7 linked regions of the Homo sapiens genome follow. The protein of the gene in region 5 purifies or fractionates together with the protein of the main gene of each other region. This does not show direct contact. Each region holds a gene or a part of one and is shown on either strand. Other genes may lie near its edges.

Region 1 (3,500 bases), on a different chromosome or scaffold from region 5:
AAGAGGCATTTTCTTTTTACTTTTCATAGCAAAGAATACTTTTTATAAATGAGCTAAATGAGGTTAACAATCTCACTAAAAATTATAGCAGTTTTTATTCTTATTTTAAGAAAAAAATCTTTTAAAGCAGTAAAAAACAATCCCAACTAGTTTCTAATACAGTACCATGTGCATGTCTCTGCTACTAAATAAGTAACGAGCCCTTCAGATACAGGAAAATAATAGGAATTGAGATTTAAGTATCTGGCTAATTACAAGATACCTATCAAACAAGTTAGGACATCAAAAGACATTTAAAATCCATGTCTTCTGTGTGTAAACAAATCTTTCTTGTCATAGGGTTTTATGCTACCTACCTTCAAACATAGTTGAAGTATCATAGATCTTTACCTTTAGTCTAGCTTGGTATTGCATGCTTGTAATTAAAAGCCTTTGACTGTATGTTTAGTTATTAAATGGCCTTTACTGTTATTTTTATGTGCCTCTTGAAATCTTTCATTTCTTAAGTTCCAGCATCCAATTTTTGGATGAAAGAGGCATTTTCTTTGCCTCTTAAGTTCCAGCATCCAATTTTTTTAAATGTGCCATGATTTCTTTTTCAGAAAATTAAAACCAATACATTATTAGTGGTTTTAATACAGAAGCTCTGCTTTTTGTCAGTAAAAATGGGTTCTGTCACATACGTGTTTTAAGCATCCAGGTCCAGGCATAATTCAGTATCCATTTAGCCAATCTGAATAACAATTTATTAGGATGAAAGGGAAGAAATCTTAAAGTGAATTCTGAAAGCCCTTTTGTTGCAGTTCGGGAGTAGTGGAAACTTAATTCAGTTTGGTGGTGAGAAGAATGACTGTCTGCCAACCCCAATTGCTCAGTTGTCTATCTGTAATTCTCTGTTTTTTACATGGGCAATAAAAGTTGAACTGACTCTTGTCACATAGAGTCAGTCAACCATTAGAAAAAAGGTATGGGGTAGAACTAGGTGGTGAAAGCTAGGACTTGTTTGTCAGTGTTGTAGAATTTTGTTTTTTTAATTGTTAGTAATGCATAGATTCAGAATACAAAGGCTTTGTTTAAAAACTAAAAACTTCCACGTTATCTCTCCTCTCCTTCCTCTCACCCCTGCCCCGCCCCCCGCCCTTTTTTTTTTGAGACAGAGTCTCACTCTGTTGCCCAGCCTGGAGTGGAATGGCACCATCTTGGCTCACAGCAACCTCCAACTCCCGGGTTCAAGAGATTCTCCTGCCTCAGCTGGGATTAGAGTAGCTAGGATTAGAAGCACACACCACCACGCCTAGCTAATTTCTGTATGTTTGGTGGAGACGGGGTTTCACCATGTTGGTCAGGCTGGTCTCAAACTCTTGACCTTGTGATCTCCCTGCCTCAGCCTCCCAAAGTGCTGGGATTACAGGCATGACTCACCGCGCCCAGCCTCCTCCTTTTTAAAAAATAAAACACTCGTCTTTGGCTTAAAACCTGTTATTATTTAAAGAAAATGGTATGTCATGACATTTCTAGCAGCTGAAACCACCTCTCCCCTCTTTTGTAAGTGAAATATTAGGTGGTAATGCAACATACATGATTAACTTCTACCTTGTCCTCTGGCCTCTGAGATATTCCTAAAGAATACCCTATGTTTCATGGACTGCTGTTAGAAACAACTAAGCTAGTACTATCTTTTATAGCTGCCTGTGTTCTTATAGTCTTAACTTCTAAAGAGAGACATTATTTACTCTGGGCTGTTTTCCAATACCAACAACCAACTCTCTTGATTTCTGTGGACACCAACTGGGTGTCCTACAAATCAATTCAATTCTGACACTACCAGGATTAGCATCACATCCCACAAGTTATGGGCTCGGTCTTACAAACCGCCCCCACTTAAGACACTAATTGAGTCCAGAACCTCTCATATTTCTGATGATGGAGTAGCCTACAGAACTTAGAAAAACAGTTGACTTTCTTGTGCTGATGAAGGATCCACCTCATGAGCAGCCACATGGAAGCGATGCATAGGGCAAAGTATAGGGGAAGGGGCACAGAGCTCTTGTGCCCTCTCTAGGAACACCACCCTCTCTAGGAACACCACCCTCTCAGCATCTCGATGTGTTTGCCAACCTGGAAGTTCAAGAGTTTTTATAGAGCTGAATCTTGAGTCCCTTCTCCCCTTCCCAGAGGTTGGTGGTTAGGGTAAAAGTTTCAACACTCTAATCAGTTGATCTTTCTGGTAACCAGCTGTATCCTGAGGCTGTCTAGTGTTCCCACACCAAGTTACCTCATTAACATAAACTCTGTTGACCCCGAAGTCTCTAGTGATCCTTCCACCTTAGCCTCCCAAGTAGTTGGGACTGTAGGTGCACGTCACCACTTCTGGCTAATTTTTAAATTTTTTGTAGAGACAGGGTCCCACTATGTTGCCCAGGCTAGCCTTGAACTGCTGGCCTCAAGTGATCTTCCAGCCTCAAGTGATCTTCCCACCTTGACCCCCCAGAGTGTTGGGATTATAGGTGTGAACTGCTGTGCCTGGCCCAAAGGACTCATTATAAATAACAAAAGACGGTCCTGTCGCTCAGGAAATTTTCCAAGAGTTTTAAGGGCTCTGAGCCAGCAACTGGCTGCAAAGCCCAAATGTATTTTTTCGTTATACCATATATTTAATATTATATTTGGTGATCTTCACCTAATCATCTTCATTTACCTGGTCTTCTGTCAGTGGGAGCAGCCATTGAGACCATGTATGAAAACCCATTCCCTCATTCATACAGTTACATAGTATAGGAAACTATCACCTAAATATAAATACAGTGGCTTTGATCTGTAACCCAAAGAAAAAAATAACTTTACATCTCGATGACCCAGTGTGTGTGTATATATTTATAGGTACATATGCACATAAATAACTAAAACAAGTTACAGAAAGTAATATTCTTGCTAGGGTATAGTACAGAATATCTAATATTCTCTATTTCATTTTTAAAAATTATTGTTCAGGACCCATAAACTGATTTCATCACTAGTGGGAGACACCACCGTTTTAAAAATATTTACCAATTGAAATTAGGTTTCTCTAAGGCTAATGTTTCTTTTACCTCATGTCAGCTTTTGTTTCATACATAATTGCTGTCAAATCATCTAGCAGTGCTTCCAGTTGATGTGCAATTTTCTTGTCTATTGGAGATACTTGTCACAAGATGTTCACTACTATTTGTCCATTGCCATGTGTGAAACCTGCATCTGGTGCAACATGCTGATGGGAAGAGTGCCTGAAGTAACTCCCATTTTCCCAACAGTTTGGTAGAGAGCGTATGGACTTGGTGCTGCATCCATTCTAGAGTACTCTTGCTCCTTGTTGGCACTGTTACTTGTGATTACAAGGCCCTGAATTCATAAACTTAGAGATAAAAAACTTCCTCGAGCTTTGACCTTTTCAGTTACTTAATATTTTTCAAAATTCATATCATGCACTTGTACTCCAATTTTAATCTCTTTAGGGAACTTAC
Region 2 (3,500 bases), on a different chromosome or scaffold from region 5:
TATTTTCCATGCCAGAATTATCAGATGCAGGAGTAAAATTCTAGCACATGAGCAAGGACTCTACATCTATTGGTTACAAATGACATCATGCTTTCTAAAGAATCATGCTCATTTTTCCTGTTTCTACCAAATTGCATAGTCTGGAGCTCCCTCTCCTGGATTAACATGATTTTATCAATTTCTTCATACTATAAACCAGAGAGGCAGAATTTATCCACAGCAACAAATCATTTAATGAATGTTTATGACTTTTCTTTCTTATTAAAGGGGACATTCTTTTATCCCAACATATAAAGTCGTTGAACTCCATCAAACAATAAGGAGAACCTCACAGATAAAAGGAAGAAGGTGTCATTAAACACATTACCTTTCGGCTGGAAAAATGGGCGTGTTTGCCCAATTTACTGTTAAGTGCTTCAAGAAACATTTCATCGGTGACTTTGCCGACATTCATGCAAGCATCATCAAGGATTGCAATGATCCCTTTGTGCTGTTGCTCCACGAGGTCAACAATGATCTGATTGTTGAAGTAGTCAATCTGTAGGACACAGCAAGGAGGGAATTCTGAAGAGAACAGTGACCAGGCCAGGTTAAACCCTGATGCTCCCATTTGTATCAGGAGTTCAGGTAAAACTACTTTGGTGTCAAATGTGTGAATAACATTAAAGAGGTCTTACGCTAAAAAGAGTACACATTCTAACAGAGGTTTATTTTTAAATTTCTTTGTTAACTTTCTATCATGAAATACACCGTCTGAGATTAGTACAGCCCAAGGCAAAGATAATAAGGTAGACACCATTTCTCCCATTACAAACTCATTTTAATCCTGCCTCCAGATCCCACACCCAACCCTACTCCTTCATACCAATCTGCCTGCCATTAACTGTAAGGTCCACCTTCCACAAAGGGCCAACAAATAACCTTAAAGTATTATCTGATATACTACTTCATAATAAAGTTAAGGTACTACACAAAACTTGCAATTTTATAAAAGTAGGGTACAAGTTAAATGTTTAGTTCTAGAAATTTTGTGCAATATGTTCATAACGATGGCTGCAGTTGCCACAAAGTGCCTCGTTTACCTTTAAATACTGTTAATGTGTCACGCATGCAGATGGAAGGGGTGGAACTGTGCACTAAAGTGGGGGCTTTAACTGTAGTGTTTGGCAGAGTTGCCTTCTACCTGCCAGTTCAAAAGTTCTGTTTTCATGCAGAATATATATACTAAAAAATTTCAGTCTTTTAAACAGCCTTACTCTGATTCAGCCTCTTCAGATACTCTTGTGCTGTGCAGTAGTGGCTCTATGTGTAAATGCCATGCACTGAGGGTACACAAAAATATCAACATTATGTGTACAGGATAATGCCTCATCCCAATCAGATGTCCATTTGTCATTGTGTTTGTTAACAACCCTTTATCTCTTAGTGTTAAATAAACTCCACTTAAAACGGAAAAAAAAAAAAAAGAACTTGCATTTTTAGTTACATGACCCTGAATGACTAAAATCCAAAAGAGCATTTCTTTTGGTTTCCCCAAAGTTAAAAAGCTTCAATAGAATTTTGAACAATTTGAAAAAATTCAGTAGAATTTTTACATTTTTCTAGGCATAATATAAAGAATTTAATTCTGAGAAATAAATATCTATAAAAGATAAGAAAAAGCTTTTCCTTTACTTCCACAAGGTGAATGAAGTTATAAATAACTTCTGGCTTTTCAGCAACTATACATGTACAAGGTTTGTCCAACAATCCTCTGCCACACCTGTTTATTCTGACAGCCTGCAATGTACCTATCACTACACACAGAAGGCACACAAAGAAAGGCCAACTCAGGCAAGCTGCACATCTCAAAGAGGGGCAGCTTATGATCACACAGTTTAATCTTGCTATGTCCCATCTTACGCAGGAGTTACCTAAACTGATTGCTGTCTCCATTACCTTCTATAAGGTCTATATACTCATAATAGACCATTCAAGTGACTCATGTATTCCCATTTCATGCTTTAAAATCCAAGGTTTTATGCCAGTTATTTGTACATGGCTTTTAGCTCCATTTCTAGTCTTGCATGTTCTCTTCTGTATCTTATGGACTGAAACCTGTAAACTGGGTAGTTTTTACTTTGTTTTTTATACTTTTCTGATCTGTCTAAACTAAAGTTTCTCAAATAGGGGAATAGGGGGAATTTTGCTCACCAGGGGACATTTGGCAATATCAGGAGACATTTCTAGTCAAAATGGGGTAGGGGTGCTACTGTCATTTGGTGGGTAGAGGCCAGGGGTGCTGCTAAACATCCTACAATGCATAGAACAGCCTCCACAACAAAGAACTATCTGGCACAAAATCTCAGTAGTACTGAGGTGAAGCAGTGTAGGTCTAAATATTTACTTTCATTATGGGCATTTATTACATTTCTAATTAGGGAGAAAAGTTATTTCCATCTTTGGAAAAAAAATCCTAAAAATACTCAAAAAGCAGGAGCTCTATATTAATAGTTGACATCTTAGACTTCGGGACTGTGAAATTAAAGACGAAGTCTTTTGTCCCAGGGACTAAAGAATTACCTTCCCTAAAATCCCAATTATATTATTAAAAGCTATTGGTCTCTGCTAGTAACTTTCAGTTTGTAAGTTTAATACTGCTTCAAACATTGCTTAAACCAGTAGTTTTCAAACTAAGTTCTTCCAGCAACTTGGCATTCCCGTAAGGTTTCCTAAGGGATACCAGGAGCCAGAAGACTTGTGATGGGGTAGCTTAGGGACATGGGGCTCTGGCCTTTCATACCCACTCCAGATAAAACAGCTTTGTGCTTGAGTATCAAGTTCTCAATAGTTAAAATGATTTGCAAACTACAGCATCGAAAGCTTTTAAAAGTGAATGTACCAGATAACCAGACATTATGAACCTCCTGGTGGAAGTTCACACACAGTCTATGAAATGGGCTGTGGAAAAAAACTGACTCTGAATCCAGTCAAGACTCTAGATCTAACAACCAATATACAGGACATACAAGAAACAGAGAAACATATTAAATGGCACCTGAGGAATGCAATTAGCAAAATCCAGACTGTGGGGAACTCCATAACAAATGACTCATTCTCTTCAACACAAGATTGCAAAGAGAGATCATTCAAGGAAAAAAAGAAACATGGAGAAAATCTATAGATATGCAAGAGACCTATCAATCAATCATAATGTAAGAAACTTATTTGGATCCAAATTTAACCTGCAAAACAACAACCAGAAGACAATTAAGGAAATATGAAACATGTATACTGACTGGATATTTTATGATATTAAGGAATTTTTGTTAATGTTTTAGGTATGATAATGGCATTGTGATTATGGTTTTTGTAAAACTCTCTTAGAGAAATACATGGAAATATTTACTGAATAGATACCCAATTGAATAGATGAAATAATGTGATATCTGAAATTTGCTTCAAAATAATCTGGGAGTAGGTGGGTATAGTACAGATGGCATAAGACTGGCAATCAACTG
Region 3 (3,500 bases), on a different chromosome or scaffold from region 5:
AATACACACATAGCAAACTCTAATCCTAGTTGGTCTTTACTAAATCTAGAGAGAGTTCTGTCTAAGATGCCCTAGAAGCAGAAAAAGAGAAGAGCCCAGAAGGCTTTTTCCTTTTTTTTTTTTTTTTGAGATGGAGTCTTGTATTGTCACCCGGGCTGGAGTGCAGTGGCGTGACCTCGGCTCACTGCAACCTCTGCCTCCAAGCGATTCTCCTGCCTCAGCCTCCCAAGTAGTTGGGATTATAGGTTCCTGCCACCACGCCCAGCTAATTTTTATATTTTTAGTAGAGACAGGGTTTTGCCATGTTGGCCAGGCTAGTCTCGAATTCCTGACCTGAGGTGATCCACCTGCCTCCGCCTCCCTAAGTGTTGGGATTATAGGTGTGAGCCACCACGCCCAGCCCTTTTTAAGAAGGTCTTTCTACTGCCTTGAAAAAAATTCAGATTGCTTTAGGAATCATTACTTTCTCCAGGCCTACACCTCTCACAGGGAAGAAAAAAGTGCATGTCTCCTAAGAAGTGCCAGAGCAGTTAACTAAAGCACTTGCTTCAATGCTGTGCTCTAAGCTAATAGAACAAGAATCCCAAATGAAGCCAACAAGAGTTTTCTGCAAAACACTGACCAGAAAAAACACTTGCATTTTGTTTTTTAACTTGCCATTAAAAAAATAATAATAAACATACAGAAAGTTGAAAACCCCTAGGTCTCAACCACTGAGTTTCATTAAATATCTACTATCTTCTCCACCACACTTTACTTTTTTACTTTCTTATTTTAGGGGAAAGGATAGTGGAGCATTTTTTAAGCCAATCCCAGATAAGGTATTATTTAATCTGTAAGTATTTTAGTTACCCTCTGCTTGGGCTACACTCAGATTGAAGCAAAGGGAAAAATGATATTCCTTCGGGGTGCTCTCACATTTGAACTGTGAAAGTTTCATGTGCCAAAAATACCTAATATAGTTTGGGTTCTTGGTCTGTAGGTTTTTCATCAGAGTGGCCACGGATGCCTTGAACTGTGAGCCTGCTGTAGGAGGCCTTTTCAGGTTGATCTTGGCGGGATTCCCTTCGGGGAACAAAGACTTGATGAGGGCATGGCTGGCCTTCCACATGGCTTGGGACAGGTCTCGATAGAGAAGGTCATTGTTTTTGTCAACGAATCCTTCCACCTGGTACAGCACCTATAAGCAGCACATGTAACTCAATGACAGGCACATTGCATGCTATAATGTCAAACAACTATTAAAAATACTCCAAGACTATCTACATTGCAGCCACTTCCTTCACCATCAAAAAATCCCTGACATGTTAGTCACACTCTCATAATGAGTTCGCCTCCAAGTTTAAATTCCATCTGTCTAAATCACAGACAAGATCAAAATAAATTCTATTACCATTCAGGATTTGCAAGAATAAACTCCAAAAATGTTATCATAACATTTTCAAAGGATTTTGCATTTTTTAGGAGTCTGAACATATTCTGGGGTTTTACTTTTATTTTTTAGTTCTCACATACCAATTCTAGTCTGTTTAAAAGTAGATGGGGCAAAATAGAAACAATACTAACACTTTCATAAATATCCTGAGCAGCAGAAAAGCTGATCAGAAATTATCTTTTAATAATATACGCTAATAAAAAAAATAAAGTACCAAGTTCTAACATTTTGAAATTAAAGGTAATTCAGGTACTATATACTTTTTACAAATGTATAATCAAGAAGTTTTTTTCCCTTTGAAGTTTGCAATTTTATGAAAAAGGAAGTATTAGCTCTAATCAATATTCTTTCAGGATTCTAAAGATTAATCAATTAAGATTGTTTTTAGCATTGTCTTTATATATTAGACATAAAATTAATTCCCCCAAATATTAACCAAATAAATAAGTGTTTTAAAAAAGTAAATATTTTCCCTAATGTCATTTCAAAATCTCAAATAATTCATTATTTTTGCTAAATGGCTTGTGTTTTTAAAGCCTTAAGTCTTTATTGACTCTTAATTTGTACTGGCAAATCTCCTTCAATAGTGTTAATAGATATTTTTTATAGGATAGCTTAGAGTTTGAAAATAATAAAGATGATTCAAAAATATATTTAGACTCTTCATTAAGTCCATTAGCTTTGCTTTTGATTTTCTGTATTAATAAGATTTTAGTCAACATGGTCCAGATTCTATTTCTATTGAACATTTATCGATTCAACCACTTTAGCAGCTCAATTTGTCCTCACAAGTTAATGGGGTTTCGAACGCCCATCTCTGAGGTACAGCCTCCTTGCAGGGGTAACTTGGCAGGCCTGACTGGGTGCTCACAGCTCCCCCATACCTTTCCAGCATAATGCTGGATCCTGAAGCAGCTGTGAGGCAGAGACGTGTCATTGAGGAACCGAGAGCACTTGCTCATCCTGCTCTCAAAATGCTGGTGGGTGGCACATACTTGGTTCAGCTTTTCTAAGAAGGTCTCATCAGTGACTGTGCCAGGTCTGAGGCACTCTTCATCCAGCATGGCCAGGATTCCATTTGTGTTCTGGGAAAACGGAAATAAAAAAGTTTCCTTCCTTCCTCACTATATTGTTTTAATAATTATTCCTAATTACACCATCAAACACAATCAACTTAGTCACAAGAAAAGTCTGTTCAGTTATAACAAAAAGCAGAGACTCAAAACAATAACAAAAGCCACAGGAATCAGCTCTTTCCTGAAGGATCCCAGGTGTGTGTATGGTGGTGTGGTTGGGAAGAGTGTGTCTTCTTGGTTCCTCTCTCCTCGCACAGAACAACAGTACCTGGGAGTTGCCTCAGACACCTTAGCCTGATGATGACTGAAATTTATACTCTTACAAAAAGACAAGTTGGACCTCAAAGATTCAAAAAGAAATCTAAAAGCAGAAATGAATGTGACAATACAGCCTCTATAACATGTCTCAAATCACAAAGCAGTCTTCTAAGGCCATTATTTGATTCACTCCTAAGAAGGAAACTCGTTTTCTATGTTTCCAAATTGTTCATGTGTTCAAAATAAAGTTTATTTCCTAGAAAAAAATGCTGTGATTTGAGATGCTGCTTTTAACAATCACTGCAATCAAACTGATTTCAAGAATATCTGTTTCATATAGATTTAGATTTTAGAAATTCATGTGGAATTTCTAAATGGATGTTAAACATAAGTGAAAATTTATTTGTTGCATATCTAGACCCTGTGGTCATTTTTATTCCAAGAGTAGTCAGCCCTAAACTGAATCAGAAGTCAGGAAGCTTCTACTTTGCTAAATAAAGACTGCTACTCCATGGACTGCCCCTATGGGGTCATAAGTCTTAATTCCAAAAACAATCCACTCCACTGACCATCAACCCCACCTACTTCCACCCAGGCAAAGTCCTCTGTTCCTCTCCCCTTCTGCTAACAAGGCCACGACATCCTCTGACCAGCATTTATTCATTCCACACAAAACCCTGGGGAAGCGTGGACTCTCAGGAATCAAGTGTGTTCATAACATCCCCAGAACA
Region 4 (3,500 bases), on a different chromosome or scaffold from region 5:
TTGACGTAAGAAAATGGGTTCAAACTGAAATAAGCAACAGAATTTTTAAAAAGGCATTAAAAAACCATAAACCAAATGCAATAGAACTTAAGAGCTACAAGAAGAACGTGGAGAAAATACCCATAAACTCACAAGAAAGTACCTGGAAACTCTCAGAAATACAACTTGTGCCTCAGATAGCCAAATATTAACATATAGATTATAAATAAGAAGATGCATTAAAATTTTTAATACAAGAATAAATACAACTTCATAGGAATCACCAAAGTTTGAACAGATAGGGTTTAAACAGGAGTAGAGATACGGAATCTCCACCTCAACTCTTGTATTTTAAGAGTCCTCCTTGATGGAAACCTGAAGGTAAATCATGGTAAAGAACTGAGAGAGGTTAGGGGAAAATGGACAGAGAAGTGAGAGAATACCCACACTGCTCATCTATCTAAGAAAGTATGAATGATGTTTCCTGACACACAGTACAAAACTGGCAGAGTGTTCAGAAATTTTGATTATTTGGAGAGCTACTGGGAGTCTAATTCTGCCAGAAGACAATTTCACTCCTAAAAGTCAGAGAAATGGCAAGGCAAAAGTTAACCAAATTCTGACCAACAGGGTGAACTGACTGGTGAAGTGAAATCTCAAACTAGGAACTTCAAAGAAAACTTGGGAAGAAAACTTCTGTTATCTGGAATTCACAATTGCCAAATTAGGAACCACCAGGAAAAGAATACAGGAAAACTGGTAAATTTAGGCTTAATCTTAGAAAATAAAAAGTCTTCAGAAACAAAATTCAAAATGAGCTTGTATCTTAGATTGTTTGAAATTCAAGGGGAAAAGATAAGGATAATCACAGAGTCAGAAACCAGAGAATCAGGGAAAACAAGTCAAGAATTTCTGACAGTGCAATCAAAAATGATTCTGATGAGGAACCAAGTGTAGGGGGGCAGTGAGGGGAGGCACCTAAAGAAATCAATGTGACCACACGGGAAGTTCTCTTATACATAAACAATTTAAGAAGATACTAAAAGATAAGGAAAAAGAAACTTGTGTCCAATTTTTTAAAAAGTATGAACAACTTGTTAGAATAGTATGAAAATGATACATCAAAAATGAACTGAGATTGTGAAACTACTAGAAAGAATTTTAAAAATTGTAAACTAAATTTAGAGGGGAGCTATTTATCATGAGATGAATGTAAACGTTTTACAAAAAGAGATCAGTGTTACTCAATTTTTTTTTTTTTTTGAGACGGAGTCTCACTCTGTCACCCAGGCTGGAGTGCAGTGGCACGATCTCGGCTCACTGCAAGCTCCGCCTCCAGGGTTCACGCCATTCTCCTGCCTCAGCCTCCCAAGTAGCTGGGACTACAGGCACCCGCCACTATACCCAGCTAATTTTTTTTTGTATTTTTAGTAGAGACTGGGCTTCACTGTGTTAGCCAGGATGGTCTCGATCTCCTGACCTCGTGATCCGCCAGCCTCGGCCTCCCAAAGTGCTGGGATTCCAGGCGTAAGCCACCACGCCTGGCCCTACTCAATTTTTAAATTTGTTTTTAGCCCTAATTAAATACATGTGATCGTAAGACTTGATTATGAGAGAAATGAAGTCCAAAATAGTTAAGGAGATAGTAGGAGAAGACCTAGATGCTTCAAATAAATTCCCTTCTATAAACAGAAGTGTTGATGAATGAATTCGTTTCAGCTTGGAGGCAAGCATTCAGCTGTCACAGATCTGGAATTTGCCCCATCATGTGGCTCCATTTTAGCAATGTGGATGGAGATAAAAGTTGTCATGCTTTTGTAACCCTGGACGTCAAAGTTGATAGGTATAGACATGTTGGATGCCAGATAATAGTTCAAGAAGTACTGACACTCTGTAGTGATTGAACAAATATATTCCTGTGAAAAAAACCTAGAGGGCTCGGCTTACCACAAGTTGAGTACACAAGAGTGTGCCATAACTACCACAAGTGCTGAAACTGTCTCGGGCAGTGGATGGAATGGCAGAATGGCCAACGGTAGGATGGCCCATCTGAATAAGCTTTCTGCTTCCAGGAATGAAAGAAAGTGGGAATAAGGATTTGGCAGGTTTTTGACTGTGAGCACATCTGGGGGTTTGGGAAGTAGATTTCAACACAGTAGTCCTAGTTTATTTACAGACCTGGCTCTGATTCATAATTTAGGGCCTCTGTAACTGCAGTTACTTAAAATTAACTTAATTATGTAACTCCCCCACCCCCGTTCTCTAAAATCAGTAATGATATAATTATTGAAAACAAAAGACTCCGAGCTTACAAGAGGCCCAGAAGAAGCATGTACACATACGGCAGTGATTGCTAATAAGGTGAGACATGAAAACAAAAGGCATTCTGCAAGGATAAATGAGGCACACCAATATCTCCTACATACAACTGAAACTTCAAAACATGTTCATTATATGGATGAAAAAATGAAGAAGTAAATTAGTTTAGCTTAACCATCGCTATCAGTATATATGGACCAATTCTGTCATTTCCCTTTTAGGAACCTGAAGATGTGATTGTTTGGGGAAATTCAACATAAATTCTATTTCCTACAATGCCTATGTGACATAGTATAGCACCACATTCAAATGACTCTACTAAGGGCCACTATTTAGTTAAAAAAATTCCGTATCTGGACATTTTGCCTCCTTATAAAAGGGACTGCACACAAACCCTAACGCTTCAAAATTATCTAGCCAGATAAACTGTTGTGAAGGCACTTTAGCCTCATTAGCCAAACTTCCAAACTAAGACTAGTATTAACGTATGTTAAAAAATGATAAATTTTAAAATAGTATAATTTGAAAAATATTTTATAAAAAACTAGGCTATCAGATACACAGAGTCAATTACCTTGGCCTTTTTAAGCAGGTCAACTATATCAAGGTTCATGGATGCCAGTTCCCTGCTTGGCATGCTCTGCAGCTGGGTAATGATGAACAGCTCACAGATGTGCTGCAGTCTGGACACTTGGTACATCTCGGCACAGATCAGGAGACACATGGCCTGGAATATGCCAGCTGATGAGAAAAGGGACATGAGAGAAAGTGGATGATGAAACCATTTCTTTAATGATCTAAACACCCCCCACCAACAAAAAACAACAATTAAAAAAACATGCTGACCGTAGCATCCACCATAGAATAGAATGGTTAGGAAAAGCCTCGAGGGAGTCAGCATTCTGCACTTTTATTCCATTTTATCTTTTTTTTCTTTCCTTTCTTCTTCTTCTTTTTTTTTTTTTTTTTTTTTTTTGTAGAGACAGGTCTCACTATGTTGCCCAGGCTGGTCTTGAACTCCTGAGCTCAAATGATCCTCCTACTTTGGCCTCCCAAAGTGCTGGGATAACAGATGTGAGCCATCACACCCGGCCTATTATTCCATTTTAAAAAGAAGGGCCGGCGCAGTGGCTCACACCTGTAATCCCAGCACTTGGGGAGGCCGAGGTGGGCGGATCACGAGGTCAAGAAATCAAGTCCAT
Region 5 (3,935 bases):
AGAGCAACCTTTACTTTGAGGTTTTTTTTTTAGGAAAATTGCTAAATTTCATTGTGAGATTAATCAATACATAACAGCTCACAAACGTGGCATGTCGATAAGGGGACAACTTAAAAGTTAAGAAAATGATGACCAGCTAATGACAGCTATGCAAGATGGTAAAAAACAGAACAGAGAAAAAATGGAAGGTTGAAAAGGAAAATGTAGCAGGACAAGCCGGAGGAAACTTGGGCGTGAGGAACAAGTCATCAAGGCAATTGGAAATTTCTGTGGATATGACAATGATGTCAGGAAACTTTCGGGTGGGGCAGAAACTTGAGTGACAGATGTTGTTCAAAAACAATGTGATTCATGATCTTATTTACAGCAGGAAGAATCAGAGTTCCAGCTATTCCTAACAGCGACACTGCGGAGCTTAGGAGGAGAACTCCTTAGGGGATGTATCAGGTTTAAAACCACAACCCTCATTTTTCTTATCTATGGCTCTTACATGGGCTGGGAATTCTGAAACCTGGGAGAGGCGGTGATCAAAAACCTGGAGGTTAGAAGATTCCAAGTCATTCATTAAAGTCCCGATGCGGCCGGCCCCCAAGATCTCAAAAGGAAATATTGCCGAGTTCCGTTTCCCAGAGCATCTATTTCCCCTCGAGTATTGCAGATGTAATCATAAACACAAGCCAGTTACAGCCACAACTTCATGCTTTAGCGAGAACCCAGTGGCTCCTGCAAAGTCCTTACGCTGCTAGAAACCCCGCCCCCGTTCGTAACTATGGGAACGGCTGACACGCTGAGAGCCGGAGATAACCCTGTTCCGCCCCCTCCCTGACAGATACTGTTTCCCACTGTCTGTCCACATGGGCGCACCGCCTCACTATTGGCCAGGGCTCCAGGACTGTGCCTGGCCTCAGCCAGTAAACGGCCTGTGCACGTGCACGCCGGAGCCTCCCGATTGGCCAACACTCCCTGATCACGCACGGCCTTCCTGCGCCCACCCACGCGTGGGAGCGCCAATGAAATGACTCAGTGACCATCTACAACAAATCAGCAAGAAGCAGGGCTCGCAGCTGACCAATGGCCGCCCGCCGGGGGTGGGCTGTCCCGGCCCTTTTCCAGGCCCAACTGGGTTTGTTAAAGCGACAGGCCTCTCGGCGAGCCGGTGCCCCATCGGGTACCGCACGGCTGCCGCGGCGGCCTTACCCTGCCGCGAGCGCCTGTGACAGCGGCGCCGCTGTGCTCGCGACCCCGGCTCCGGGCCTCTGCCGACCTCAGGGGCAGGAAAGAGTCGCCCGGCGGGATGGGCGGGGAGGCTGGGTGCGCGGCGGCCGTGGGTGCCGAGGGCCGCGTGAAGAGCCTGGGTCTGGTGTTCGAGGACGAGCGCAAGGGCTGCTATTCCAGCGGCGAGACAGTGGCCGGGCACGTGCTGCTGGAGGCGTCCGAGCCGGTGGCCCTGCGCGCGCTGCGCCTGGAGGCCCAGGGGCGCGCCACCGCCGCCTGGGGCCCGAGCACCTGCCCCCGCGCCTCGGCCAGCACCGCGGCCCTGGCTGTCTTCTCGGAGGTGGAGTACCTGAACGTGCGCCTCAGCCTGCGGGAGCCCCCGGCCGGTAAGCGCAGGCGAGCGCCTGGGGTTCCCCCGCCAGGCTGCGGGGCCGGGGAGGGGCTGGGAGGCCGCGCACCCTCGGGATGCCCACCTGGCAGGTGAGATCAGGGCGGGCTTCCGGGGGTGGGGTCCGGCCTACCCTCGCGGGTAAGGAGAGACCGCAAGTCCTGGGTGCGCAGCTCTTCCTGGCGCCCCGCCCCTGGCCCGCCGGGCCTGACCGGGACCAGTGGCTCGGGATTTTCTAGGACCGCGACGGGAGGGGGCCATTGGGTGCGGTGGGAACCTGTGATTGGACAATGGGGGATCCAGAAATCTAGGTCCTGTTCCTTCTGGTCCAAGAAAGGGACGGTGGAACCGGCGGCTATGAGGTTCCATTCTGCGGTGCCCGTGTCCTATGGCCTCCACTCCTCCCTATCCTGCATACGTTCTTGGTTCATGATGAATTAGCAGAAATTTGGTTTGGGGAATAGGGAAGTAGTTTCTGAGGGGTAGGAGTTCAAAGGAAGTGTTTTCCAGACTTGATCATCATGCTTGGTTTCCCTCTTCTGGGGAGCAGGGCAACTTAGTAAGAGTTGTACCTCTACCTGATACTGCTGCTGTTTCCTCCGCATCCTCTTCCTCCCCATCCTCCTCCTCCCCTCCTACCCGCTTCTTCCCCTCTCCCCCACTTCTCTCCACTCAAAATGCCTTTAGAGACAAGAGCATCAGGGCGTGTCGGGATTTCCCTTCCTGCTCACTTTGGTGAAGTCCAGTTCACAGTGTAGACTTTTCCAGAAGTACCCATGTGGGGACACACTACATGAGCGTTTCATTAATATTAGATACCAAAATTGGATCCCTTTAGTCACGAAAATACTAAGAACCATGAGTCTTACTCATTTCATGGATGGAAACTAGTTTAAACTTTTACGTTTTTGCCATGAGCTTTTATCTATCAAATAAAACAATGGTATGCACCTCCTCTCCTTGAAGAGTAAACGCATTATATCTATGTGCTATGTCTTATACAAAATATAATAGAATATGTGGTTTTGCCCTATCCTACTGTGGACACAGTGAACTCCTCGAGGTAAGTGATCATCTGAGTCATCCCAAAATTGTAGTGAGGAAAACTATATTTGGAACCAAAACTGCCTTTTGGATCAATGGGAACAGTGTGTTAGTGATAGTTCTTACTCCTTCATGCACTTTCCTCAGTATGGCTTCCAGGATCAACCCAGGCCCCAGTGGAAGCAGACAATACAATTTGCAAGATGGCCGAATGGAGTCAAGGACCTTGGGAGTGAGACATACATTGATTTTTGTCCAGGACTTTGGACTGTATCTCTGGGCCTATAACTGCTGAGTCAATAGATGTAAAATTAAAAGCAGTTGAACCTGGGATTAGCAATAAAAAACTGCTTTGGTAAAATCTGGGCTAACATTTTTTTTAATTCACAAGTCAGATGTTTATTCGTCACACACACACATATATACACATGTGGAACAGAATGTAAAAACTAGACAATTTGAAAATCTTAAACTTGTTTTAGAATGTATCATAGCACATATTGGCACAATTACATTTTGCTTAAAATCATAGTCTCTTTTAGTTGGGGAAAAAAAATAAGTCACCCCTAATATCTATAGCTTGGAAGAACTTAGCATCTTTACACAGTCTAGATTCTGGGGGTAATTTAATTACAAAACCTGGCTGTGTTTCAATCACCTAAGGAGATTTTTAGAAATCCATATTATGTAGCACTGGGATCTGTTTTCACAAATGCTCTCCAGATAATTCTTTGACATCCTTAATCTAATTCAACTACTTGCTGTCATTGTGATTGATTTTCTTCATATTTTTATTGAGAAACTGTAGTAGAAAACAAGCCAGAATCAGAGAGTTGGTCTCAGTTCTTGGTCACCCACCAGCAGTGTGACCTTATGCAAGTCCCTCACCCTTCCTGAGCCCCAGTCTCTGCCTCTGTAATGGTCTTCTGCATCCCACGGCTCATCAAAACCTTTAATTATGAGCTTTGGCTGTAAGGCCATTAGTGATTGAAACATCTTCCTGTGACTTTGTAGTGCTCAGTATACAAGACAGAAATAATGAGCGGTTGGTGCAGAAGCAGAAATGGGCACATGGTTCAGCTTGTGAACCTTTTACATTAAAAACAAAACTTGAGAAAGAGGAAAAGAAAACAAAGATTGAATTCCAAATATTATAACCCATTTTTATCAGTTTTTCCATTTCTTTTTCCTGTTTATGTTTTGAGATAGTTGAAAGTCTCATTTTAAATGATATAGATCCGATGTCGATTTGTTGCTTAATGAAAGGGGAACTTCATGTCTCTCATTC
Region 6 (3,500 bases), on a different chromosome or scaffold from region 5:
ACCCGAATCGAGGCTTTCCCAAGATATTTAACGACAAAACAGTAGGTTAGTGCAGTAAGTCCTTCCTTTCTGCCTCTGATATTCAAGCTGTGGGATTGTGACTTTGAAGACCGGAATCGGTGAGGAGCAGTGGATTTGGATTGTGCAGATTACGGCTGCTTTCATATTGCTCACCTGCCCAACTTTTTAATGGTTTTCAATCTGCTAGATTGGTCCTTATTGCATCAACTAAATTTGGTATTTACTTTATTCTTTCAATAAATGTTTATTGACATCAGTTACATGCTGAGCACTAGGGATAAATGGAAGACAATATAATCCCTGCTGTCTAGCACCTGACTAGCTGGCACATCCAATAGTAATGGGCCCTGCCTGGGCTCCTGTGGACATAAGAGGAGATAGAGCTCAGACTGGGAGGTCAGGGCAGGCTTCCTGGACAAGGTGGTGTTCGAACTGTTTTTGACGATTCAGTGGGAGTTGCCGTGGCTGGGACTGTGGATGTGATATGGTGTTGAAGAAAAGGTCATTCCAGGTAGAGGAGACAGTGTGAGAAGGCACAGGCACATGTGCCTATTTGGGGAACTGCAAGGAGCCCATTGTGCTTGGAGCATTGGGGAGGGAATGGGGATTTAGGGTGATAAACTAGAGAAGTAAGTGAGGTGTTAAATTACTACCCCCACTTCTCACTTCTAGCCTTACCCCAGAATCCACCGACAGAGACACGGAATCCAAATGCAAAGCCATTCAAAGGATCAGGTAGTAGCCAGATCAGAGCAGCAGGGAGGGGTAGACTCACAGAAGCATGGGATTAGGGCTGAGAGGAGCCTAGAAACCAGCCTTTTGCCAAGTTTCCCACGGGGGGGCGTGCCTGGGTGTGCGTGTTCGGATGCTGAGACTCAGGAACTCTCAGGTAGTCAGGAACGTGGTGATGAGCAAGGGGCTTCTTAGTGTGCTGCCCCTGAATCATCACAGGTGAGCTGTCCAGGGGCCGTGGGACAGGCTTCTCACCATGGGCAGGGTGGCCGAGTCTCACGGAAACCGAGATGGTGTCCTCGGAGGCTGGCTCCCACTGCAGGTCCGGGAGCAGGCCAGCCCAGGTGCAGCATTGAAGCCACATGTGAGGATTTGGGCCACACTTCACCCCTTACCACTAACGTTCCCTGTACACATACAATTCCACTGACTTCACAGCGACCTCTGGGGGACGGGGCCTGTGCCTTATATTCACCATGCTTTGTATTCTGTGGTGTCTGGGCCTGGACGCATACAGTGAGGATTTACCGAGTCTGAGTGCATAGGGTGAGGATGTAGCTGTCCTTGTTTAACTCTTCATGGTACTGTTGAAGGCCCCAAATTGAAGAATCCCTTCAGAGGTTGTTACGGTCAAAATGTCAATCGTTACGAATTATATTGTAGTTGGGATTAAAAGCACCACGGAATACGAGGCACAGGTCGCGTCTCCCAGAGGTCACTGCAAAGTCAGTGGAGTTGTATGTGCACGAGGAATGTCAGTGAGGAATGTGGCCTGCTCTTTCTCATCCTCTCTGACAGAATGCTTTGGGGAGCCACAGCTTTGGCTCTCTGCTTTTTGTCCAGTGGAAAACTTGAGTGGCTTGAACTGGGAGAAGCAGACTGTGGGAGCTGCACTTAGCAGGAGCCGCAAAGCCCTGGCTGTTCCACTTTAAGCTGGGTCAGTGGCAAACACCAGAAAGCATTTGAGGAAAATGGAGAAGCCTGAAGAGGGAAGGTGACTGAGGAGGGGTAATGGCTTTTAAAAGAAGCATTGTTTGATGGTTATTTTTGGCATCTTTAAGTGAATTCTAATTCTGTTTTTCTAATAGGTGGAGAGGCCAGGAAGGTCTACGATGATGCCCACAATATGCTGAACACACTGATTAGTCAAAAGAAACTCCGGGCCCGGGGTGTGGTTGGGTTCTGGCCAGCACAGAGTATCCAAGACGACATTCACCTGTACGCAGAGGCTGCTGTGCCCCAGGCTGCAGAGCCCATAGCCACCTTCTATGGGTTAAGGCAACAGGTATGGAAGGTGTACTGACAGCCAGCACACCGCTTTCGCTTGTGAGTTTAAGCACTACACAAAAGAGCTTTGCATAAATGAGGGTCTGCTTCACCTCCTCCCAAATGACCAATCACATGCCCAAGAAGTGACCAGTCACACGCCCAAGCCCAAGCCATCTGTGAGGACGAGGGAGAGAAGGCGCCACCATGGGTGTCAGAGGCAGGACCACTCAGCAGGAGTGAGGCGTTTAATATTGTGTTCCATGGATGGGCGAGGACCATTGCTGCTGTCTCAGGTGGTCACGTGTCAGGATCTCAGTCTTCTTAGCTTCTGAAGAAAGAGAACACTCACTTGTTCAAAAACGTAGGTTAATATCTATGCATATTATTAAAATAGACTGTCAGGTGGCTTCCCTTGAAAGGGGAAGACAGGTGGAAACAAACATTTGCAGAATGTATACCAGGTGCCAGGTGCATAGTAAGGTGCTTGATGGTCATGCTTTTAATTTCCACACAGCCGTGTGAGGCAGTTTAAGTTTGTGTTTTACAGAGAAGATGAAGGATGATGGAGATTGTGCTGGGCCCCCCAATATAGAGAGGAGAGCCCAGCCTGTACATATCCCCAGTGGCCGTTCTTTGACTGTGCTGGCTTTTTTTCTTTCGAGTGACGAGAACAGACTCTTCTCAGCAACTTGTCTCTCATCCCCCCCACCTTTGAAAAGGCAAATATCATATGCATGTCCCTTTAGCTGCTGTAAAAAAGAGTGTCTTAATCAAGAATTGGAACCAGAATTCACCAGAGTCATTAACAAATTTAATAATTTGCAGAAAATTACTCTGTTTTACTGCCATTTTCAGTCGTTCAGAAATAATAATGTTGGCTGGGCACAGTGGCTCACACCTGTAATCCCAGCACTTTGAGAGGCCAAGGTGGGAGGATTGCTTGAGCCTAGGAGTTTGAGACTAGCCCCGGCAAGATGGCAAGACCCTGTCTCTACAAAACAAATTTAAAAATGAGCCGTGCACTGGGGAGTGCAGGCCTGTACTTCTTCAGCCAGCTACTCGGGAGGATGAGGCGGGAGGATCACTTGAGCCTAGGAGATCGAGGCTGCAGTAAGCCATGATCATGCCACTGTATTCCAACCTGGGCAACAGAGTGAGACCCTGTCTCTAAAAAACAAACAAAAAAGATAGTGGCGCATTTTAATCCCAACCACAATATAATTCATAATCATCCATATTTTTACCATAACAGCATCTGAAGGGATTCTTAAATTTGGGGCCTTCAGCAGTACCATGAAGAATTAAACAAGGACAGCTACATCCTTACCATATGCACTTAGGCTCAGTAAATCCTCACTGTATGCGCCCAGGCTCGGACGCCACAGAATATAAGGCACTGGGGTTCTAATGTTAAGTTCCAGCCCCTCCTCACTAGGGAATTTGTGGCTATTCTTTTACAGACATAACTGTTCAAAAAC
Region 7 (3,500 bases), on a different chromosome or scaffold from region 5:
CACCACCCCTCAGACTTTCACTGTACCTGACTATATCCAGTCTCCAAAGAGTGACTTAAAGTTAAATAACTTTATTGTTTGGTATTGTAACAGTTCAGAAGCTGGGAGAGATGAGAGTTCAGGGATTAAAGGAGATACAGTCTTGTTAGTAATAAAGCTCTGAAACCAAGGAACTGTATAGAGCCAGTACTCCAGTCCCAATGACTTAGAATTTGAGAGACAGCGGAGGTAATTATAAATCTACATTAAAGATAGCAGCTCTATACTCCCTACCTGCAAATCATTGGAGTTACAGGCCAAAGGCAACTCAGTAACAAAGACATGCTGACTATCTGTGCCCACGCTTCTGAATGAAGCTGGAAGCTGGGATGCTTGGTGCCTGAGACTATTTTTGTCTTTTTTTTTTCTTCAGACAGAGTTTTGCTCTTATTGCCCAGGCTGGAGTGCAATGGCGTGATCTTGGCTCACTGCAACCTCCACCTCCCGGGTTCAAGCGATTCTCCTGCCTCAGCCTCCCGAGTAGCTGGGATTACAGGCATGCGCCACCATGCCTGGCTAACTTTGTATTTTTGGTAGAGACGGGGTTTCTCTATGTTGGTCAGGCTGGTCTCGAACTCCCGGCCTCAGGCGATCCACCCACCTCGGCCTCCCAAAGTGCTGGGATTACAGGTGTGAGCCACCACGCCTGCATTTTTTTTTTTTTTTTTTTTTTGAGACGGAGTCTCATTTTGTTGTCCAGGCTGGAATGCAGTGGCACGATCTTTGCTCACCGCAACCTCTGCCTCCCAGGTTCAAGCGATTCTCCTGCCTCAGCCTCCCAAGTAGCTGGGATTACAGGCGCCCACCACCATGCCTGGCTAATTTTTGTATTTTTAGTAAAGACGGGATTTCACCATGTTGGTCAGGCTAGTCTCAAACTCCTGACTTCAAGTGATCCATCCGCTCTGGCCTCCCACCAAGTGCTGGGATTACAGGCGTGAGCCACCATGCCCGGCCTATTTTTGTCCATTTTCCACAACAGGAAGAAACCGTATGTTCTGATCCCTTTTACCTAAGTTTCCTGCTTCTTCTTTATCAAACCCATCACCAACAATTGTTTTAAAAATATACACCACAGTGCATTCCTTCCCTTCACCCAGGTATCCTTAGCCCCTTCGTATAGGGAGAGGATTGGAAGAATCGCAGCAGCACCCACTTTTGGCTGACTTAGAGCGGGTGCGGATGCCCTCATCCATGCTGTAGATCTCCTCTCCCTTCACACGGATATCCTGTAGCCGTTTGTCATCTGCATTGATGCCATGCTGGAGCAGCTTACAGAGTGCCACAGAGCTGGCAAGGAAGATCCAAAAAAAGGTCAATCAGCCGCCCATCTCGAGTTCACTCCAAGGAGATAAGCAATTATGTCCTAAGACCCTCTATTTGATAGTGAAAATTCCGTTAACAACTAATTAGGAGAGCTAAGAGAGTTCAGCTGAAAATGAGATTTTAGAGTTCATGAGGTGGTTTAATGAGATCTGTGCTTTTTTGTTGTTGTTGTTGTTGTTGTTGTTTTTGAGATAGGGTCTCATTCTGTCACCCAGGCTGAGTGCAGTGGTGTGATCATGGTTCACTGCAGCCTTGACCTCCCTGGGTTCAGGTGATCCTCCCACCTCAGCCTCCCAAGTAGCTGGGACTATAGGCATGCGCCACCGTGCCTGGCTAATTTTTGTATTTTTTTGGTAGACACAGGTTTCACCATGTTGCCCGGGTGGGTCTCAAGCAATTCGCCCACCTCAGTCTTCCAAAGTGCCGGGATTACAGGTGACCTGTTCTTCTTGAACAAAGCTAAGGTTGCACCATATTGTAAGGTGCAACGAGGTGATAAGAATCAGTGGTATAAAAATCCAGGATAAAAAGTTAGGAAGCCAGGGTTAGAAGGTTGGGTTTTTTATTTTTATTTTTCTGAGACAATTTCGCTCGTCGCCCAGGCTGAAGTGCAATGGCGTGATCTGCCTCCTTGGTTCAAGCGATTCTCCTGCCTTAGCCTCCCGAGTAGCTGGGATTACAGGCACCCACAACCACATCCAGCTATTTTTTGTATTTATAGTAGAGACAGTGTTTCACCATGTTTGCCAGGCTGGTCTTGAACTCCTGACCTCCGGTGATCTGCTCGCCTCAGCCTCCTAAAGTGCTGGGATTATAGGTGTGAGCCACTGTGCCTGGCCAAGGCTTGGGCTTATAAAGGAAAATAAGCCACTAGCAGCACTTAGCTGTGTGAAGTCTGTGGTAGAGAAGGGATCTCTTGTAAACAGAGACCAGAAATATATAGTCTACCTGTGTTGACTGTCTTTTGGGGATTTCAAGATGGCAGCTATTCACATATGTGCGTTAGCAATAAAGAAAGACAGGGAAAAGGGAATACAGAGAGCCATTTGAAATGTCAAACAAAAATCAATGGAGCAAATCAGGAAAAAAAAGAAATATGTGTCAGGAGCAGTGGCTCACACCTGTAATCCCAGCACTGTGGGAGGCCGAAGTGGGTGGATCACTTGAGGTCAGGAGTTCAAGACCAGCCTGGCCAACATGGTGAAACCCTCTCTCTACTAAAAACACACACACAAAGAATTCACTGGGTATGGTGGTGCATGTGTGTAATATTCGGACGGCTGAGGCAGGAGCAGGAGAATTGCTTGAACCTAGGAGGTGGAGGTTGCAGTGAGCCAAGATTGTGCCACTGCACTCCAGCCTGGGCGACAGAGCGAGACTGTCTCAAAAAAAAAAAAAAAAAAAAAAAAAAAAAAGAAATATGAGTGGTGGCAGAATGCCCAGAAAAGAAAGATGAGGTTCTACCTGACTTTGCCTTCATACTGTCCATAGAACAGGTGCTGTCGGCTTGTCCACTCAGCCATCACAAACTCTAGAGCAGGTTTGCCAGTAGGTCCTGGGAGGCTACACAGGAACTCCAAGAGAGGTTCTAGCTGAGTGTGCACCAGATGAGCGAACACCATGATCAGGGACTAGGAGAAAATAAGGACATTTGCTTCAGGGAAATCAATTTCAGAGACATAGGAGATGAGAGGGAACTGGCCAGTCAGATAAGAAATACAGTCTACACTGAGGGTATTATCCACAGGACAAGAAAACATGGGAGATTTCCTTGTCCATGTTTCTTAGGCCAAACAGATCAGACAGGTCCCATTTTACTTAACTGTCCTACAAGGCTAGTAAGAGGGTAAAATAAAATAACTCAGGACCAAAATACGAATTTTCATTTCTATCAGCCAGGGAGTAGGAAGCCCACTCCCCACTGCTCTCTTACCTGCATGACACTGAGCGTCTCTGCCTGCTGCATCTTACTGAGGATGGCACGAAGAATCTGGTCTAGATTCTCCCCGAGTTCCCGCCCTGCCTTGGAGATGAGGGTGGAAACAAGGCGGCCCACAAAGGCCGCAGTGAACTCTGAGGTGCGGGGGTCCAGGAGCTGGCTCACCACTTGCATCACATACCACAGTCCATTGTGG

The links.
Region 1: the proteins of ARRDC4 (region 5) and XPOT purify together in Homo sapiens (affinity purification with mass spectrometry; one large-scale study listed by BioGRID and IntAct). This does not show direct contact.
Region 2: the proteins of ARRDC4 (region 5) and MYO1D purify together in Homo sapiens (affinity purification with mass spectrometry; one large-scale study listed by BioGRID and IntAct). This does not show direct contact.
Region 3: the proteins of ARRDC4 (region 5) and MYO1B purify together in Homo sapiens (affinity purification with mass spectrometry; one large-scale study listed by BioGRID and IntAct). This does not show direct contact.
Region 4: the proteins of ARRDC4 (region 5) and RHOBTB3 purify together in Homo sapiens (affinity purification with mass spectrometry; one large-scale study listed by BioGRID and IntAct). This does not show direct contact.
Region 6: the proteins of ARRDC4 (region 5) and MTR purify together in Homo sapiens (affinity purification with mass spectrometry; one large-scale study listed by BioGRID and IntAct). This does not show direct contact.
Region 7: the proteins of ARRDC4 (region 5) and IPO9 purify together in Homo sapiens (affinity purification with mass spectrometry; one large-scale study listed by BioGRID and IntAct). This does not show direct contact.

What each region holds. Positions count from the first base shown.
Region 1 is NC_000012.12:64,410,892-64,414,391, forward strand, and holds part of XPOT (exportin-T), read left to right. Parts: intron 1-3,500. UniProt on the Homo sapiens protein: Mediates the nuclear export of aminoacylated tRNAs. In the nucleus binds to tRNA and to the GTPase Ran in its active GTP-bound form. Docking of this trimeric complex to the nuclear pore complex (NPC) is mediated through binding to nucleoporins.
Region 2 is NC_000017.11:32,755,125-32,758,624, forward strand, and holds part of MYO1D (unconventional myosin-Id), read right to left. Parts: intron 539-3,500; coding exon 368-538; intron 1-367. UniProt on the Homo sapiens protein: Unconventional myosin that functions as actin-based motor protein with ATPase activity. Plays a role in endosomal protein trafficking, and especially in the transfer of cargo proteins from early to recycling endosomes.
Region 3 is NC_000002.12:191,384,904-191,388,403, reverse strand, and holds part of MYO1B (unconventional myosin-Ib), read right to left. Parts: intron 2,521-3,500; coding exon 2,320-2,520; intron 1,181-2,319; coding exon 954-1,180; intron 1-953. UniProt on the Homo sapiens protein: Motor protein that may participate in process critical to neuronal development and function such as cell migration, neurite outgrowth and vesicular transport.
Region 4 is NC_000005.10:95,783,336-95,786,835, reverse strand, and holds part of RHOBTB3 (rho-related BTB domain-containing protein 3), read right to left. Parts: intron 3,040-3,500; coding exon 2,873-3,039; intron 1-2,872. UniProt on the Homo sapiens protein: Rab9-regulated ATPase required for endosome to Golgi transport. Involved in transport vesicle docking at the Golgi complex, possibly by participating in release M6PRBP1/TIP47 from vesicles to permit their efficient docking and fusion at the Golgi.
Region 5 is NC_000015.10:97,959,568-97,963,502, forward strand, and holds the start of ARRDC4 (arrestin domain-containing protein 4), read left to right. Parts: upstream 1-1,135; 5' UTR 1,136-1,294; coding exon 1,295-1,601; intron 1,602-3,935. UniProt on the Homo sapiens protein: Functions as an adapter recruiting ubiquitin-protein ligases to their specific substrates. Plays a role in endocytosis of activated G protein-coupled receptors (GPCRs).
Region 6 is NC_000001.11:236,889,292-236,892,791, forward strand, and holds part of MTR (methionine synthase), read left to right. Parts: coding exon 1-45; intron 46-1,841; coding exon 1,842-2,038; intron 2,039-3,500. UniProt on the Homo sapiens protein: Catalyzes the transfer of a methyl group from methylcob(III)alamin (MeCbl) to homocysteine, yielding enzyme-bound cob(I)alamin and methionine in the cytosol. MeCbl is an active form of cobalamin (vitamin B12) used as a cofactor for methionine biosynthesis.
Region 7 is NC_000001.11:201,870,657-201,874,156, reverse strand, and holds part of IPO9 (importin-9), read right to left. Parts: coding exon 3,299-3,500; intron 2,997-3,298; coding exon 2,830-2,996; intron 1,330-2,829; coding exon 1,196-1,329; intron 1-1,195. UniProt on the Homo sapiens protein: Nuclear transport receptor that mediates nuclear import of proteins, such as histones, proteasome and actin. Serves as receptor for nuclear localization signals (NLS) in cargo substrates.